2 separate regions of the Homo sapiens genome follow, and region 1 is linked to region 2. A link means that fine-mapping ties the variant in region 2 to the expression of a gene that starts in the linked region. Tissue or cell type: whole blood. Region 2 holds a variant in brackets; the other region holds the start of a gene. All regions are shown on one strand. Distances are between the middles of the regions.

Region 1 (8,090 bases), 27 kb before region 2:
TAGTTAGATTCCCAGAAGAAAGGAGAGAGAACAGGAAAAGAAACATTTGAAGAATTAAAGGCTGAGAACTTTTCAACATTAAGGACAGAGCAAACCACAAAATCCAAGAAGCTCAGAGAACATGCAGAATAAACTCATATATATATATATATATATATATATATATATATATATACACACACACATATAAAATTAGATATACTCGAAATGCTAAAACAAAAGAAAATCTTAAAGGCAGCAAGGAAAAAGAAGACATTGCATACAGAGGAAGCTAAGAATTATGGAGACGTCAGAAACTATGCAAGCTAGAAGCCAATGGAGTGACCTTATTGCTGATGCTGATAGGGGAAAAACACATACACACACAAAAACTGCTCACCCAAAATTCCGGAATCCTATACCCAAATGAAAGTGTCTTTCAAAATAAAGGAGAAATAAACCCTGTTTCAGATAAAGAAAAACGGAATTCATTGCTCCTTCTACAAGATACTAAAGGAAGTTTTTCAGGCAAAAGGAATATGATACCAGAAAAAAACCTGGGTCTACACAATGAAATTAAGAGCACTGGAAATTGAATGAAGGTAAGTACAATTAAAATCTTTTTTAAATTACCTTAGAAATAACTGAAGTGAGCTGGGCATGGGGCTCAAACTTGAAATCCCATCATTTTTGGGAGGCTGAAGCAGGAGGATCCCTTGAGGCCAGGAGTTGAAGGCCAGCCTGGGCAACAGCCCCAATACCTCCATCTCTACAATAGAGGGTCACAAAACTTTTTTTTTTTTTTTTTTTTTTTTATGTGGAGTCTCACTCTGTCACCCAGGCTGGAGTGCAATGGTGTGATCTCGGCTCACTGCAGTCTCCGCCTCCTGGGTTCAAGTGATTCTCCTGCCTCAGCCTCCTGAGTAGCTGGGATTACAGACCTGTGCCACTATGCCTGGCTAATTTTTGTATGTTTAGTAAAGACGGGGTTTCACCACTTTGGCCAAGCTGGTCTCGAACTCCTGGCCTCATGTAATCTGCCTGCCTCGGCCTCCCAAAGTGCTGGGATTACAGGTGTGAGCCACCACGTCCTGCCAATCTTTTTCTATAAAGGAGCAGATAGGCCGGGTGCGGTGGCTCATGCCTGTAATCCCAGGCACTTTGGGAGGCTGAGGCGGGCGGATCACCTGAGGTCGGGAGTTTGAGACCAGCCTGACCAACATGGCAAAACCCCGTCTCTACTAAAAATACAAAAAAATTAGCCAGGCATGGTGGCGGGCTAATCCCAGCTACTCGGGAGGCTGAGGCAGGAGAATCACGTGGACCTGGGAGGCGGAGGTTGCAGTGAGCTGCGATTGCGCCATTGCACTCCAGCCTGGGCAACAAGAGTGAAACTCCATCTCAAAAAAATACATACATACATACACACATAAAATAAATAAATACATAAAGGAGCAGATAATAAATATTTTAGGTTTTGTAGGCCATATCTCTGTTGCAACCACTGAACTCTACCGTTGCAGCATGAAAACAGCCATAGACAGTAGGTAAATGAATGAGCGTGACTCTGTTTCAGTAAAGGTTTATGGACACTGAGATTTAAATTCCATATAGTTTTAATGTGCTACAATTAAGTTGTGATTTTTCAACATTTATCAAGGTAAAAGCCATTCTTAGTTCATGAGCCGTGCAAAATCAGGCAGTAGAGTGGTTTTGGCTTGCAGGTGGGCAGACCATCTTTTTTGCTAACCGCCTGGTCTAAGGCAAGCATATTAGCAATGAATTGTGTACTTGCAGCACATGCAAAAATTTAAAATACTGATAAAATGAATCGTGGTATATTTCTAAGATGAAATTCTACTTAACAACAAAAACAAATGAACTATTGATTAATGCAACATGATTGCTTATAAAATAATTACGCTGAGTAAAAGAAGCCAGACAAAAAAGACTACATACTATATGATTCCGTCCATAAAAAATTCCAGAAAATGAAAACCAATCTATAGTGACAGGATGTAGATCAGTGGTTGTTTGCAAGTGGTTGGTGGGTAGAGGGGAGAAAGCAAGAGAAGGAAGGGATTTTAAAAAGTAAAATGTAGGACAACAGCAAGAAGAACAGGAGGGAAGAAATGGGAATTTATTGTAAGGTCTTTATATTATACATGAAGCGGGACATTTTTTGAAAGTAAATTCTGGCCCAAGCTTCACAACGACCACACAACTGTTTAGTCCTAGAGTTGTGGTGGTGGGAATGGGGTGGGGGTCACTGTTCCATCACTACCAAAAGCAAGAATCCAGCTGGCTGGATGACCAGCGCAGTAAACTGAGAAGGGAATAAATATCTCAAATTGCTTGAGCACGTTACTCTTAAACTGGGATGACTTAAATCTTCCTTCAGTGGGCACTAAGCATCTTTTAACCTCAATGATGATTTATTTCATTTTATTTATTTATTTTTTGAGATGGAGTCTCACTCCGTCTCTTAGGCTGGAGTGCAGTGGCGCAATCTTGGCTCACTGCAACCTCTGCCTCCCAGGTTCAAGCAATTCTCCTGCCTCAGCCTCCCAAGTAGCTGGGATTACAGGCAGGCACCACCATGCCCAGCTAATTTTTGTATTTTTAGTAGAGATGGGGTTTCACCATGTTGGTGAGGCTGGTCTTGAACTCCTGACCTCAAGTGATCTGCAGCCCTTCACCTCCCAAAGTGCTGGGATTACAGGCATGAGCCTCACAGATGATTTAGAACAAAGACTAGAAATGTTTTCAAACTTCTAGTATTAATAATTTTGCATTAAGGCATCTGTGTAAATGTGATACTTTAAATTCCTATAATGTTCAAGATAATTTCAAGAGCTTGGCACTGTGATTCACGCCTGTAATCCCAGAGCTTTGGGAGGCGAAGGCAGTTTGAGACCGGCCTGGGCAACATAGGGAGATTCCCCACCCCCTCTATAAAAACTAAAAAAACTAGCCAGGCATGGTAGTGTGTACCTACAGTCTCAGCTACTCGGGAGGCTGCAACAGGAGGCTAGCTTGAGCCCAGGAGCTTGAGGCTGCAGTGAGCTATGATCGCTATTGCACTCCAGTCTGGGTGATAGAGTGAGACTCTGTCTCAAAAAAAAAAAAAAGATAATTTTGAGAATTCTAACAGATTATTCTTGTACTAATTACAAATATGTATTTGAATAGATTTAGACTTTTGATTTTAAGATGAAATCTCGTTTGTATTGACACATTTGAAAGCACTCATGACTCAGTATTCTTATAAATGTATTACATTTACAAGAATTACACAAGGACTTGAAAGGCTTTGTTAGAAACCTGTGATACTTAGAAAAACGAATTGAATTTATAAATGCAGTTTCAAATGTTCAAAGGATTTTAATTAGCTTAGTTTATTAATGGGACCAAATAACTGATATAATTTACTAGATTTATGAATAGAACTGTAAAACTTGGCTGTGCGCGGTGGCTCACGCCTGTAATCCCAGCACTTTGAGAGGCTGAGGCGGGCGGATCACGAGGTCAGGAGTTTCATGGGCTGGAGGTCTCAGGATAATAAAGAACTGTTGTGGTTGGGGGTGGGAGGTGGAAGAGAGTCATCAAGCAACTGGAATTATGGGAACTTCAGCATGAAGACCTAGCACTAGAAATTCGGGAGGCCACAATCACAATATCAGGGATATAACCAAGGGAATGGATGTCTAATTGGAAAGAAAGGAATATCACTGAAGACGAGAAGGAAATCAGACCTGATAAGCCAGAGCGCTGCTTTAGATGAGTGGCCACTATTTCGCACAACTTAAGGGGGCACGGTTCACGTGAACGTCTACGTAAATGGCGCTCCCAGGCCTTGTGCAGTGCATAACCTGCGGACCCGTATGACATGAACCTGCTAGATCCCCAAGTACCCAAGAACTGATGACAGGAGTTCGTGTGGGGAGACGAGACAGGAGGTAAAAAAATAATCCTTGGTAAGCAAAAATTGGTCATAATTGTGGAGTATTTACTATATGCTTGGTGATGTTCTAAACACTCTCAATAACCTTGTGAGTTCAATATTTTTATTATCATCAATACTATTTTACAGATGAAAGAAGCAAAGGAAACGACAGCTGGTCTCGAGCACACTCGCTCAAGAGCGCCACACTCTACACCGTAGAGTCTACAGCGCAGACGAAGCCAACTCCTCAGAGCGCTCACCGCGCTCTTTCCGCAGCCTCCCCCGCCGCCGGCCGGGCGTAGCGCAGGGTCACGTGCCGGCGCGGGGCGGGGCCAGCGGGGCGCCTGCGCGCCTGCGCGCCGCTGGCCGACGGAGGGGAGCCTGCCGATGCCGAGCGGGTGCTACGTCCCGCGGTCGGAGCCGCGTCTTCTCCCGGCTCCGCCACCAGCCGGGGCTCGGGTGGGGGCCCGGGGCCCCGGGGCATGGCCCTCCGGAGTGCGCAGGGCGACGGCCCCACCTCCGGCCACTGGGACGGCGGCGCGGAGAAGGCAGGTACGGAAGCCGACCGGGGCGCCGGGAGCGGCCTGCGAGGGCGGCCCGGGGGGCAGGGGCAGCTGGCGGAGGCGGCGCCGGAGGGGCGCGGGCTGGGGACCCGGGGCTGCTGCGGGGTTCCGGGCGGCGAGAGGAACAGGCTGAGGGCCCAGGGCACGTCTGATGAGGAGAGGGCCTGGAACTGGGGGGGCTCGGGCGGGTGCCGAGCTGACCCGAGGGAGCCTGGCGGCAGAGTCGCGTCCCCAGGCAGAAGAGCGGGCGGCGGCTTCGCGCCCCGGCTTTCTTCCATCTGGAGAGGACTGGGACTCCTCGAGCGCGGAGGCCAGGCCCACCCCGTCCCAGGCGTCCGCCACGTCCGCAGGCTCCCGGAGCCGCCTCCCCGAGGGGTATCAGCTCTCCCGAACTGCATTCACCGTCGCCGGCTTGATTGACGCGCTGCCCGCGTACCGCCGATGTAATTACCACACAGTTCTTCCTTTAAGGTGCACAGTTCAGTGATTCTTAGAAAATTCACAAAGTTGTGCAGCCATCGCCGCTGTCTGATTCCAAAACGAAACCCTTACCCATTAATAGGCACTCCGCGTTCCCCGGTATTCACGACGCCTGGCAACCACGAATCGACTTTCTGTCTGTCTTCTGCCACCTATTTTAATGTTATTCAATTGTGTAAAAGCGGCCGGGCACCATGGCTCGCGCCTGTAATCCCAGCGCTTTGGGAGGCCATGGTTGGAGGATCGATTGAGGCCAGGATTTCGAGATCAGGCTGGGAAACACAGCGAGGCCTCATCTCTACAAAAAGTTTTTAAAAGTTAGTCGGGTGTGGAGGCTCGAGCCTGTGATCCCAACGACTCTGGAGGCTGAGGCAGGAGGATCGCTTGAGCCCAGGACTTAGAGGCTACTCTATGATTGCGCCACTGCACTCCGGCCTGGGTGACAGATGGAGACCCTATCTCAATAATAATAATAAGTAAATAATTGTATAAAAAGCGCTTCTATTTTTATACTCTTTTAGTTTGGACAATTTCTGTGAAATCATGTTTTTGTTGCACATGATGTTCTCAAATGTTTTTCATTCAATAAATACATGACAGTTAAAATTATGAATGTACACCGTGAACCAAGTTAAATAATCTTTTTTCCTTGAGGAAGACTAAGGTGACTTTCCCTATTTCCAGTCCTCTGATGGATGGTGCCCGTAACAGAGCCAAACACGTTATTAATACAACCCACATATTTTGAGGAAGCTCCTGGTATCTATATTTTATTTTATATTTTATTTGGGCTCATTTTCTGTTTTTCCCTTTTTCTTATGTTCTGATACTGAATGGAAGTGGAGCTCTGAACCCTTTGGCACCGTAACCCTTTAATTACTGGTGTTTGTGTGATGTCTGTCCTCATGGCATAACAGTCAATGCCCTAGGCAGCATGGGTCTTGTGACCTGTTGGCAGTGCAGCTGTGTATCTGTTGCAAGACTTTACCCCCTCTAGTTTCCTTGATTTTGCTTCTCTGGATGAATGGGACAAATTTAAAGATGAGGTTTTTTGTTTTTGTTATTGTTTTGTTTTTTAATCATATCAGAGTATTGTTGGCAAAGTTACTAATGCTAGAATCCCTCTTTTGTAGCGTTTATAGTCAGATTGGTTTACTTACTAGACTGTTTTTTTCCATTGTAGTGAAACATTCTTTCTTGGTACCTGCTTTTTCCAGGTAGTTAACAGAATCTTTGCTAATTTGGATACTGTTTTGTAGAAACTACTAATGAAGACCTCCAGAAACAGAGGCTAGTTTGTTTTATTTTGTGTTTAATAGAACTCTTACCCAGACTGAAATAAGGTTTTCCTCTCCTGCTGTGGTCTTCTGGTACAGACGTGGAGTTAAAGCATTTTTTTTTTTTTTTTTTGAGAGATGGGATCTTGCCCTGTCACCCGGGTTGGAGTGCAGTGTCACAGTCAAAGCTCACTGTCATCTCCCAACTCCTGGACTTAAGTGCTCCTCCCACCTCAGCCTCCTGAGTAGCTGGGACTACAGGCATAAATTTTCAAGTTAATTTCCAATGTCAATATCAGTAGTTGTGGGTGGGTGTAGGGGTATGTCTGTCTCCCTCCCTCCACACAAAACGGCCCCCCCCTTCCATTGTTTTAAGACTAGCATTTCTTAATTTGAGCTTAATTTCAGTTTAAAGACTGTAAAGCCTTTATGATAATGCAGGCTTAAACCAAATAATCAGTATGGAATTTTGTACGCTCACACGAGATTCCATTATATAAATTAGTTGATCCAAGTTAGTATTTGTTTTGGTGATATGAAAAAATATATGAAAAAACTTTTAGAGGAGGCATGGATAGTGGTCATCTTTAGTTGTTATCGTCCCTTCCCAGTGTATTAAGTGCCCTAATCCAGGTGATTTTGGACATGCCTATTACTCTGAGGGGGCAGAAATCTTTACCTGGATTCTGTAGCCAGAGTTGGGAGAAGTTTAAGCCAATAGTGGGTTGTGTCATCTTTATCTGAACCATTAAGAACCACAGTTCAGATGAAGTGTCCCATTGTTAAAATTAGCATTTTAGGGAGTTGAGTCTGATCTCCCTCCCTGACTACAAAACCCTGTTGCAGTTGTTGCTATACCTATTGCTGTGGTGCCCCTCAAATAAAGTCTGCTTTGCCCTCTTTATAAATAAATAAATAAATAAATAAAAATAAGCGTTCTAATGAAGAGTAGGCCAAAGTCATACCTATCTTCCTTTGTTGAATGAATTACTTTTCAGGCATCAGGGATTTATTTATAGCAGTCTTATATTTTGCAGCCAGCTGTAGGACGGTCATTCGTTCCATCATGGTTATGATAGCCAAGACCTCTACTATAAAGGAATTTGGAAGGTATCAGCTTTGGAATAATAGTGCACTATCTTGTAAGTGGGGCAATAAAGAAATTGGAGAAGAAAGGATTGAGGGAGATTAGAATGACATACATTCTACCTCTAGATGAAATGTGGGCTTTTATTCCAAGCCAGATACAGCGTTCTCAAGTCCAGAAATGTGTGTCCTGCTCTAAATCTATAAAGTTTATCTCGAAATACAATAGATAATAGGCATTTATTTTAATCTTTTCCTGAACATCCCAAGAATAGCTCTATGATGTTTCTCTTTCGGAAATAAACAGGATGTCTGTGAATTTGTCTTTCAGTGGAGACGCTGCTAACTCCCTCCCTGTGTCGTCTAGCAGTTGATCTCACTCTGTAATTCATACATCTTTAGCTCACTTGAATTTTCTGTTTCCTCTTCCCTTTTTATGTCACAGTGAGAGCCTATACATTTAGTTGGAATAAAGTATTTGTCAGAGTGGCACACGTGGGAGTGCTTTCTCCATCTGCCACTGACATTTAATCACTAGGCTGTGGGGTTGAGGAGGGTGGTGTTGGGGCCTGAAAAAAACAGCAGCCGAAATCCACGTTGGGACAGCATCCTCCTCTGGGAAACACCGGTAGTGTTAGAAACAGGCCAAAGAGTCTGCAGATCTGTTTAGAGAGTTCTGCAGTGAGCATCACCTTAACAGTATGGGAAAAATAATGTCATTTACTGCAAGCCAGTTTTTTCCAGAGGAACAATAACTAA
Region 2 (8,103 bases):
GAGGCGGCTTGCGGTGGAGGGTAGGGGCTTCAGTTAGTAGAAGGGTCTTGAGGGATGGGGTGGAGATGGGAATTCAGGGAAGTCCTTCAATGACCACTGGTCCCTTGAGCATCTGTGGATTTGTGGACCAACAGTCAGAAGGAAGATGCTTAAAGGGAGCAAGACTGTTCTTTCTACTGTTTTGAACCATTTCTTCTATGCTGGAGCTCCAGGAATCTCCCAATAATTCTCCTACTTTCTCCTAAAAGAATCTCCTTCATTTCTTTCAAGACTTAAAGGGACACCTGAGCAGCCCAGCATGCCCGAAGGACTTAGATTGTAACTGGTCAGCCTTTCATGTCATGTGGTGGAAGTTTGCAGGAAGGGCCAGAGAGTAGGAGTAGCACTGAGCGTATATATGTTATTACTTCCTTGATGGATACAAGAGTTTGCTCAACATTTGGGCTGAGTCCTGTCTGTTACCAGTTTAAATTCATCTGCAAGGATAATGGAGTGCAGGTGGCCCAGGCCCTGTGTGTCTGGCCTCTGACTGCAAGGCTTTACTACCTCCCCACAGATTGTGTTGTATCGCGAGCAGGAAGTCCTGGACTGTGACTGTGACATGGCCTCGGTCCACCACCTGTTGTCCCAGATCCCTCAGGACTTGCCCTATGAGACACTGATCAGCAGAGCAGGAGACCTTTTTGTTCAGTTTCCCCCATCCGAACTTGCTCGGGAGGCCGCTGCCCAACAGCAAGCTGAGAGGTGAGCAAGGCTGGGACACTGGTTGAATGGGGGTGGCTGTAAATGAGCAGAAGCGAGGGAAGGTTTGTGTCTGGTGGGATAGGGTTGGGGCATGTTTCCAGAGATCTGAGCTTAGGCCAGTGGAATCCCCACTGTAGACATATGGGTCTTTATCATAAAGAGCTTTCCCAGCAATGAAAGGCTCTGCCCGCAGCCTATGTGGTGTAGTTTTGCTTTCCTCCTCCTCTTTCATACCACTTCCTTCCTTCCGTCTCTTTCCCCTGCAGGACGGCAGCCTCTACTTTCAAAGACTTTGAGCTGGCATCAGCCCAGCAGAGGCCTGATATGGTGCTGCGGCAGCGGTTTCGGGGACTTCTGCGGCCTGAAGATCGAACAAAAGATGTCCTGACCAAGCCAAGGACCAACCGCTTTGTGAAATTGGCAGTGATGGGGCTGACAGTGGCACTTGGAGCGGCTGCACTGGCTGTGGTGAAAAGTGCCCTGGAATGGGCCCCTAAGTTTCAGCTGCAGCTGTTTCCCTGAAAGCCAGAGAAGACCTTCCTCTTACATCACATTAAGGTCTCACCCTTCCATGGAAGGATTGGGAGGGGTGGAATTTCCTTTATTAAAAGGGTTTCTGTCCAGAGTTTTTTATTCCTGCCACCCTGCCCTGCCCGTTTGTGTTTGCCTTTACTTCAGAGGCCAGTAGCAGAGCCTACCTGACACAGAGGGGACCTGGGGGCCTGGCACAGAATCTTATGCCTCTCCCAGTGGGCTTTTGGATGGGCTCTCTGCCACCTCCCTGGTGTTGGAGGAAGTGGGTTTCTGAAGCTTGCAGCTGCTTTTGCAACCTGCTGGGCCTGGGCTGCCCTAGTTACCGGGAACCTCCTAGTCACCCCATAGAAGGTGAACTGGAACATGGGATGCCCTCTTACTGCTCCTGCTTGCCTGCATCAGATGGACACAGAAGGAGGGGGCTGCTGCTGAAGGAGTCAGGCTTGGGATGGAGAGCAAGAGGCCAAAGGACTCGTCTGGGAGCATGATCGGCCCCTCTTACTAGCAGCTCCATCAGCTGATCAGAAATCAGAGACAGAAGGGAACTAGGTTACTCGTTAAATCCTACCTATTTTCAGCCTAGAAATCACATGGGCGTTTCCAGTCAAGTGGGAAGGAAGCTCATTTTTAGGGCCTAGACCTAGACTAGTTTTGCCTGCCTTTTTTTCCTCCCTGCTTTCTTCTACAAGCCACACAACATTGCTTATAAAAGGTACTTTTATTACTATTTTTAGAATATATACACCCCATATGTAAATTACCCTCACTTTTAAAGTAATAATAGTTCCTTCACGGAAAAAAAAATAGTTCTCATCAGAAGGATGAGCTTCTAAGATCCTGAATTTTACTTTCTACTTGATTAACATTTTCGCTTTAGCCAGAGTTGCTATTTGCAAACAGCTTTCCACTTCCAAAGTGCCACTTTCTGACCGGTTTTTCTTCCTGTTTTCCTCAAATCATCCTACTCCCAAATAGGCACCCACTCACTACCTTGGCGTCGTTTTTTGGGTCTGACTTGACTCGTCAACTGCTGGTCTCTCCCACCTGGTTGGAAATGTCGTTGGAAACTTGCAAAGACTCTCCAGACCTTAGGGAACAAGAGGCATCACTCAGTCCTTCTGGGACAGCTTCCCTGTAAGCAAAGCCAGGTTTGTTTTAGATTCACTCTGGCCTGAAAAAAAAAGTGCCTTTTGCTGCTTTAAAGAATTGGGGTATATGGTATGAAGCAGCCATGTACTTGTATTTTCCTGGTCTTTCCTGGGCACTCTTCTCTCTTGGCAGATGTTTTCTTAAAGTGAACACACCAGAAGCACTCTACCCCACCATATCCAGTCCTCTTTGCATGCCTGTTGTGTGCAGGGTGGAGGGTGTCCCACGTGCCAGAGCAGCTGGGAGCCCTGTCCGCTGAGTTACACTAAGCACTTTATTTTTATTTATTTTATTATTATTTTCTTTTTTCTGAGATGGAGTCTCACTCTGTTGCCCAGGCTGGAGTGCAGTGGTGCAGTCTCAGCTCACTGCAACCTCCGCCTCCCAAGTTCAGGCAATTCTCGCTGCCTCAGCCTCCCGAGTAGCTGGGACTACAGGCACCTGCTACCACGCCTGACTAATTTTTGTATTTTTAGTAGAGATGGGGTTTCGCCACGTTGGCCAGGCTGGTCTCGAACTCCTGACCTCAGGTGATCTGCCCGTCTCGTCCTCCCAAAGTGCTGGGATTACAGGTGTGAGCCACCACGCCCAGCCACCACTACGCACTTTAAAACCAAAAAAAGCTCAAAGGGATGGATCATTGTCCATGGCTCAGGAGCCCCACTGTGGGGTAAGTGTGATGTCGATGGATTAATTTAGACAGTGGTGTATTCATCAGGGCAAAGGAAATTCTTCCAGAGGTGATGATGCGGCAGATATTCCCAGTGCTCTCCCAAAGCAAGCTGGCCCTCTTGTCATCCTCTCAGTGGGCGGCACCAGCTGCCCCTCCTTCCACAAGTACTCAAGCCTGTTTGTAAATACTGAAGGAATTGATGGGGTTGAGGAAAGGAGGTGCATGTGACCAGGGTCCCAAGGCCACAGCTTTTCAGATCCTAGGAAGCAAGTGGCATTTGCTTGAGTTGTGGCCTCGGAAGGAGAATGTTTATCTGTTTTCTAACTTTGCTGACACCAGGATTCTCCCTGTCATTGAGAAGAAAGCATTATCTAATTACCTTCAGGTGGTTTACTTATTCTGTAAAGAATATGTGTAAATATTTTGTACAGAGCCCTGT[A/G]TCAAATAAACAGCCATATGTGGTTACTAATCACCTCTTCTGTCATTCCGTCCTTGGCCACCGCTCAGTGGGAATGGTCTCTGATCTGGATGCTCCCACCTTCCATGTCAGGCCCAGAACTGTGCCATGGTCTGTGGACTCCTGGTCAGCCTTGACTGGCTAGGAGACCTTGGGCAGTACCTACAGTCTTGCTGTTTCTGTTTCATCTGCAAGAATTATGACCCACACACTCCAGCTGCAGCCCAGGGCACTGTGATATTTTATACGTGTGTAGATGTTTTTGTCCACAGTTCCTGGTTCATCACTCCCATAACCCTTTGTTATAATGTTGGGACACTGCAGGCCTCAGAAAACGGAATCTCTGTCTGTGACCTTCTCCTGCCCCATTTCACTTGCTCAACACCAGACTTTAATCTGACTGTAGCTCATAAGACCCTCATTCCAGAGAGGGTGCTGCCCCATACCCGGAAGGAGGAACGCTGCACAGAGAGGCCAAGAAGCATCTGGACAGACAGGCCTTGCTGGGTTTAGACCTTATGCTTTTTGTCCAGTTTCATCTCAACACAGCTGCCATGCTTCAGCCATGCCTATCCAATGACGTCTCCATAAAAGGCCCAGGAACACGGGAGCTTCTGAAGAGCTGAACATGTGGAGGGAGGGGAACGAGAACTTGTCCATGTGCCAAGAGGGTGGCGCACCCCCACTCCATGGGGACAGAAGCTCCAGCATTTGCCCAGGACCCGTCCAGACCTCACCCTGTGTGTATCTTCATCTGGCTGTTTACTTATTTGTATCCTTTTCTAATAATGTTTGTAATAAACTGGTAAACATAAGTTTCCCTGAGTTCTGTGAGCCACTCTTGGCAAATCATGCCACCCAAAGAGGGTGGTCAGTCCAATGTTGTGGCAGAGGCGGCGGTCTTGTGGGACAGAGCCTTGAACCTGTGGATTCCATTTCCAGATACTATAGGTAGGGTGAGCACTGAATTGAATTGGAGGATACCCAGCTGATGTAGGCTGCAGAATTGCTTGCTTGCTTGGTGTCAGGGGAGAAATCCCCAACACATTTGGCCACAGATGTCTGTTGGTATTGAGAGAGCAGTGGAGGAAAACACAGTTTGAGTTCATGTTTTTTCCACTCTGGGTACTGTCACAGTCGACACAACTGGTGCGGGTCTGGGGTGCTCTTGGTGTGTTTCACACCCTGGTCTGGGGATCCTAGGAGCTGGCATTTGGTTTTGGATCCTAACCAGAGCTTGATGTGCCGCTTCTCCACATGCCCTTTCTGTCCACAGAGGAGCTGCTCAGCCTACTCTTGCCAAGCTTTCCAGTATCCTCCAGACACTGCTGGCTGCTGGGGAGCGCGCGCGCAGAGCAGTGCCCGGTGCAGGGCCTCCACCCTGGGGATGGGGCCATCGGGGAGACACTGTTGTCTGTGTTGTTTGTTTCCTTGGCTCAGAGGGGAGATGCGCAGGTTCCCGGGGCCAAGCCAGTGGCACTCAGCTCCTGCCACTGTGGGCCAGGGTCACACTGCCCTTTGATCTGACAGTCGTGGATTACGCAGGCTGCCCAGGGCACTGCGCTGCCTCTGAAAGCTCACACCAGAGCTGCACTCCAGGAGCAATCTATCCTGCAGCAAATTCAGGGCACTTTCATAGAAGGTGAGGGTGGAATGTGAAGGATGAATAGAATTATGATAATTGGAGAACTAAAGGAAGGGTATGTGTGGGATACTAAGAAATATTTGGTCTTTCTCCTGGGTTCCTAACACGGGTCTCCTACAACCCTTGGAATTTCGTGAGTGGTGAGTGTCTTTTGTTATTCATAACCCCTTTCCAGCCCATTTGAGTTCATGCTAATGAATTCGTTAGAGCAGGGCCCCTAGATTGCCTCGGGGTTGCTCCTGCACCAGAAAGACCAGGTGATTCGAGGGCGGAAACTTTCAATCCCAAGCAGTGACTCCTGGGAGTTGGAGTGACAGAGGTGGAGCACTTTACAAACTTGAGATTCAGGGCTGGGCGCGGTGGCTCACGCCTATAATTCCAGCACTTTGGGAGGCCGAGGCAGGTGGATCACCTGAGGTCAGGAGTTCGAGACCAGCCTGGCCAACATGGTGAAACCCCGTCTCTACTAAAATACAAAAATTAGCCGGGCATGATGGCGGGTGCCTGTAATCCCAGCTACTCGGGAGGCTGAGGCAGGAGAATTACTTGAACTTGGGAGGCGGAGGTTGCAGTGAGCCAAGACTGCACCCCTGCACTCCAGCCTGGGCAACAGAGCAAAACTCCGTCTCAAAAAAAAAACAAAAAAAACCCCAAAACTTGAGATTGCAGTGGCTGCCAGTCGCTCCCATCCCTAACCCTGTTCATCTCAAGCGTGGCTGTTCCTGCCCACACTGCATCCTTGAGGACACCACACCAGGAAGCGTCAGGGCAGGGTGATCTTCAGTTCTGAGTCACTCAGGCAAATTATTGAACCTGAGGGGGTGGAGTCATGGGAACCCCTGAATGTGTAGTTGGCCAGGAAGTGTGGGTAGCCCAGGAAGTGTGGGTAGCCCAGGAAGTGTGGGTAGCCTGGGCACCCCATCTGTGACTCCATCGGAAGTGTGGGACTGAGCCCTTTAATCTGTGGAACCTGACACTAGCCCCAGTTGGTGTCAGAGAGCTGGAAAAGTGGTGTCAGACAACACCACACAGTATGCAAGGCTGAGGGGAAACGCCAGTGTAAAAATAACACGTAACAAGTGTAGGTGGTTTGGGGCCAACAAAGCCCGGGAGGGCTCGGGTTTAGGGTCTGTGGAGCACTGGGGCCGGGCAGGATGGCTGTAGTGCTGTGGAGAGTTGAGGCTGCCTTAGGGATGATTTGGGGGTGAAGATAGGCCTTGACCTGAGCTGGGTTTGGAGGGAGAATTATTAGTGGCCTGATGGGGTCTTAGACTGAGGGTCGAGTGTGTTCCTTCCTTCCTGGCTGGGTGAGCATCTAAGTCACTGCCTCTCGGAGGCTCACGTCCATAACAGTAAAGCAGGGATGGTCTTGGCCCTCCTGGAGGGCTTCCTGCAAGGGTGTTGGTGAAATGTGTTTCTATTTGTGAAGCTGTGCTAGTGCTGTTGCCATTTTCATGAGCAGTTACCAATCAACAAACACTTGTAGCCAGCCCTGCACCGGGCCCACGATCACCCAGGGATGAAGTGGTGACCGAAAGCAGGAACAGGCCGGAGCCTTCACCAGCTAAGAGGTGAGACCCTCAGCTGGGGCTGAGACCCAGCCTGGCTGTATCTTCCTCCCCCTGCCACTGTCCCCTCTGGTGTTCTGCTGGTGGCCCCTGCTGCCAATTCCTGCTCCTCACGAGGGCCCCTGCTCCCTGGTCTTTTCTCCAGACTTCCTCATGGTTGGCACTTGGGATCACCAGGCTGCGGGCTCACCTTCAGCTGCCTGCATTTGAGCAGATTCCATGCCAGCCCCAAGCACTAGAGGAAGACACCAGTGAGCGCCGGCATAGGCCGACGGGCTACCCTCCGTGGCAGCTGCTCTTTATCTGAGCAATGGGCTTCCACTCACCTTCCCCTGCCCCTGTCCTGCCCCTGAGGAGAGAATGATGATCATTGTGTCACTCAAGTACCTTTGGGACCTCTTGCTGCTTCCTCTCGATGGTTTGAGTCCAAAGCCCTGGGGTTTGGTTTTCGTTCGGCCCTGGAGAGTTGGTGCTGGCCTCTCAAGTTCTGGGCCCCTGGCATGGGTGAGCCTTGGGAGGTGGAGGCACCTCCACCTGACCCTGCAGTAGAGGGTGCCCTGGGCCTGCTCGTCTTAAGACCTTTCACTTGCAGGTGCAAGGCGGGTGGAGCTGAGGCAGGAACCGGGGTTGGCCCTACACAGCTCCCTGCTCCTCCGCACCACTGCAGCATGGATGGGGCAGGCCGAGCAAAGCCACAGCCAGCACAGCCCTCTCTGCTGGTCTCGCCCTCACCTGTGATACGCCGCGCGTAGAGCCCCACTTCATCTTCCTCTTACGAGAAAAAGGATGGTGCAAGGGCACTGGAAAGGCCTCGGCGTGAGTCCTGGGGTGGTGAGGACTGTGGCAAACTGGAGGGTGTACACCCCATGAAGAGATTTGACATCTCTGTGACTCCATTCCCCCCAGGTAGAAGTGAGGACCTGGCATTACCAAGCTTTGACATTTTCAAGAGAAGCAGGGCATCTAGATTTTAATGTGGTAAACGATGTTGCCAATTTAAAAAGATGGGCAACCGATTTAAATTTCTAAAACAACACTGGGTGGACTGGTTACAGCCTGTGGTACCACAAGAGAACAATCTCTGCTTTTGTCTCATGCCCAGGCTCCTGAGAGACACCAGGCCAGGCCCTGGCAAGAGAGGGGAGAGTGGGTATGAGACAGCGTCTGCCTGAGCTGGTCCCATCCACACGCCTGCAGCCTGGCTCTCCTCTGCTTTTTCTGTTTCCTCCCAGTCAGTGGTTCTGCCTGGGCCTTTCTGCCTCCAGGGCCGGGGAGGCTGCCTGAGTGTGCCCCTCATCCTCTGCGACGGTTGACTGCCCTGAGCCAATGCAGG

What was found. PIP is the estimated chance that this variant, and not a neighbour inherited with it, causes the effect.
Region 1: it holds the start of TBC1D20, and the variant in region 2 is fine-mapped to the expression of TBC1D20 in whole blood (TOPMed, PIP 0.95).

The regions. Positions count from the first base shown.
Region 1 is chr20:458,723-466,812 of GRCh38, reverse strand. It overlaps TBC1D20 (TBC1 domain family member 20), which reads left to right and starts at 4,280. Exons shown (of 8, transcript NM_144628.4): 1 at 4,280-4,477. The coding sequence starts at 4,408. RefSeq lists silencers at 3,841-3,910, 4,191-4,680, 4,749-4,897.
Region 2 is chr20:431,749-439,851 of GRCh38, reverse strand. RBCK1 (RANBP2-type and C3HC4-type zinc finger containing 1) reads right to left here. Exons shown (of 12, transcript NM_031229.4): 12 at 7,713-8,103. It overlaps TBC1D20 (TBC1 domain family member 20), which reads left to right. Exons shown (of 8, transcript NM_144628.4): 7 at 557-744; 8 at 1,011-4,372. The coding sequence ends at 1,266. Among named protein-coding and RNA genes, the nearest start is that of TBC1D20, 27 kb to the left of the region's middle. The variant A/G (reference allele first, on the strand shown) is at 3,540.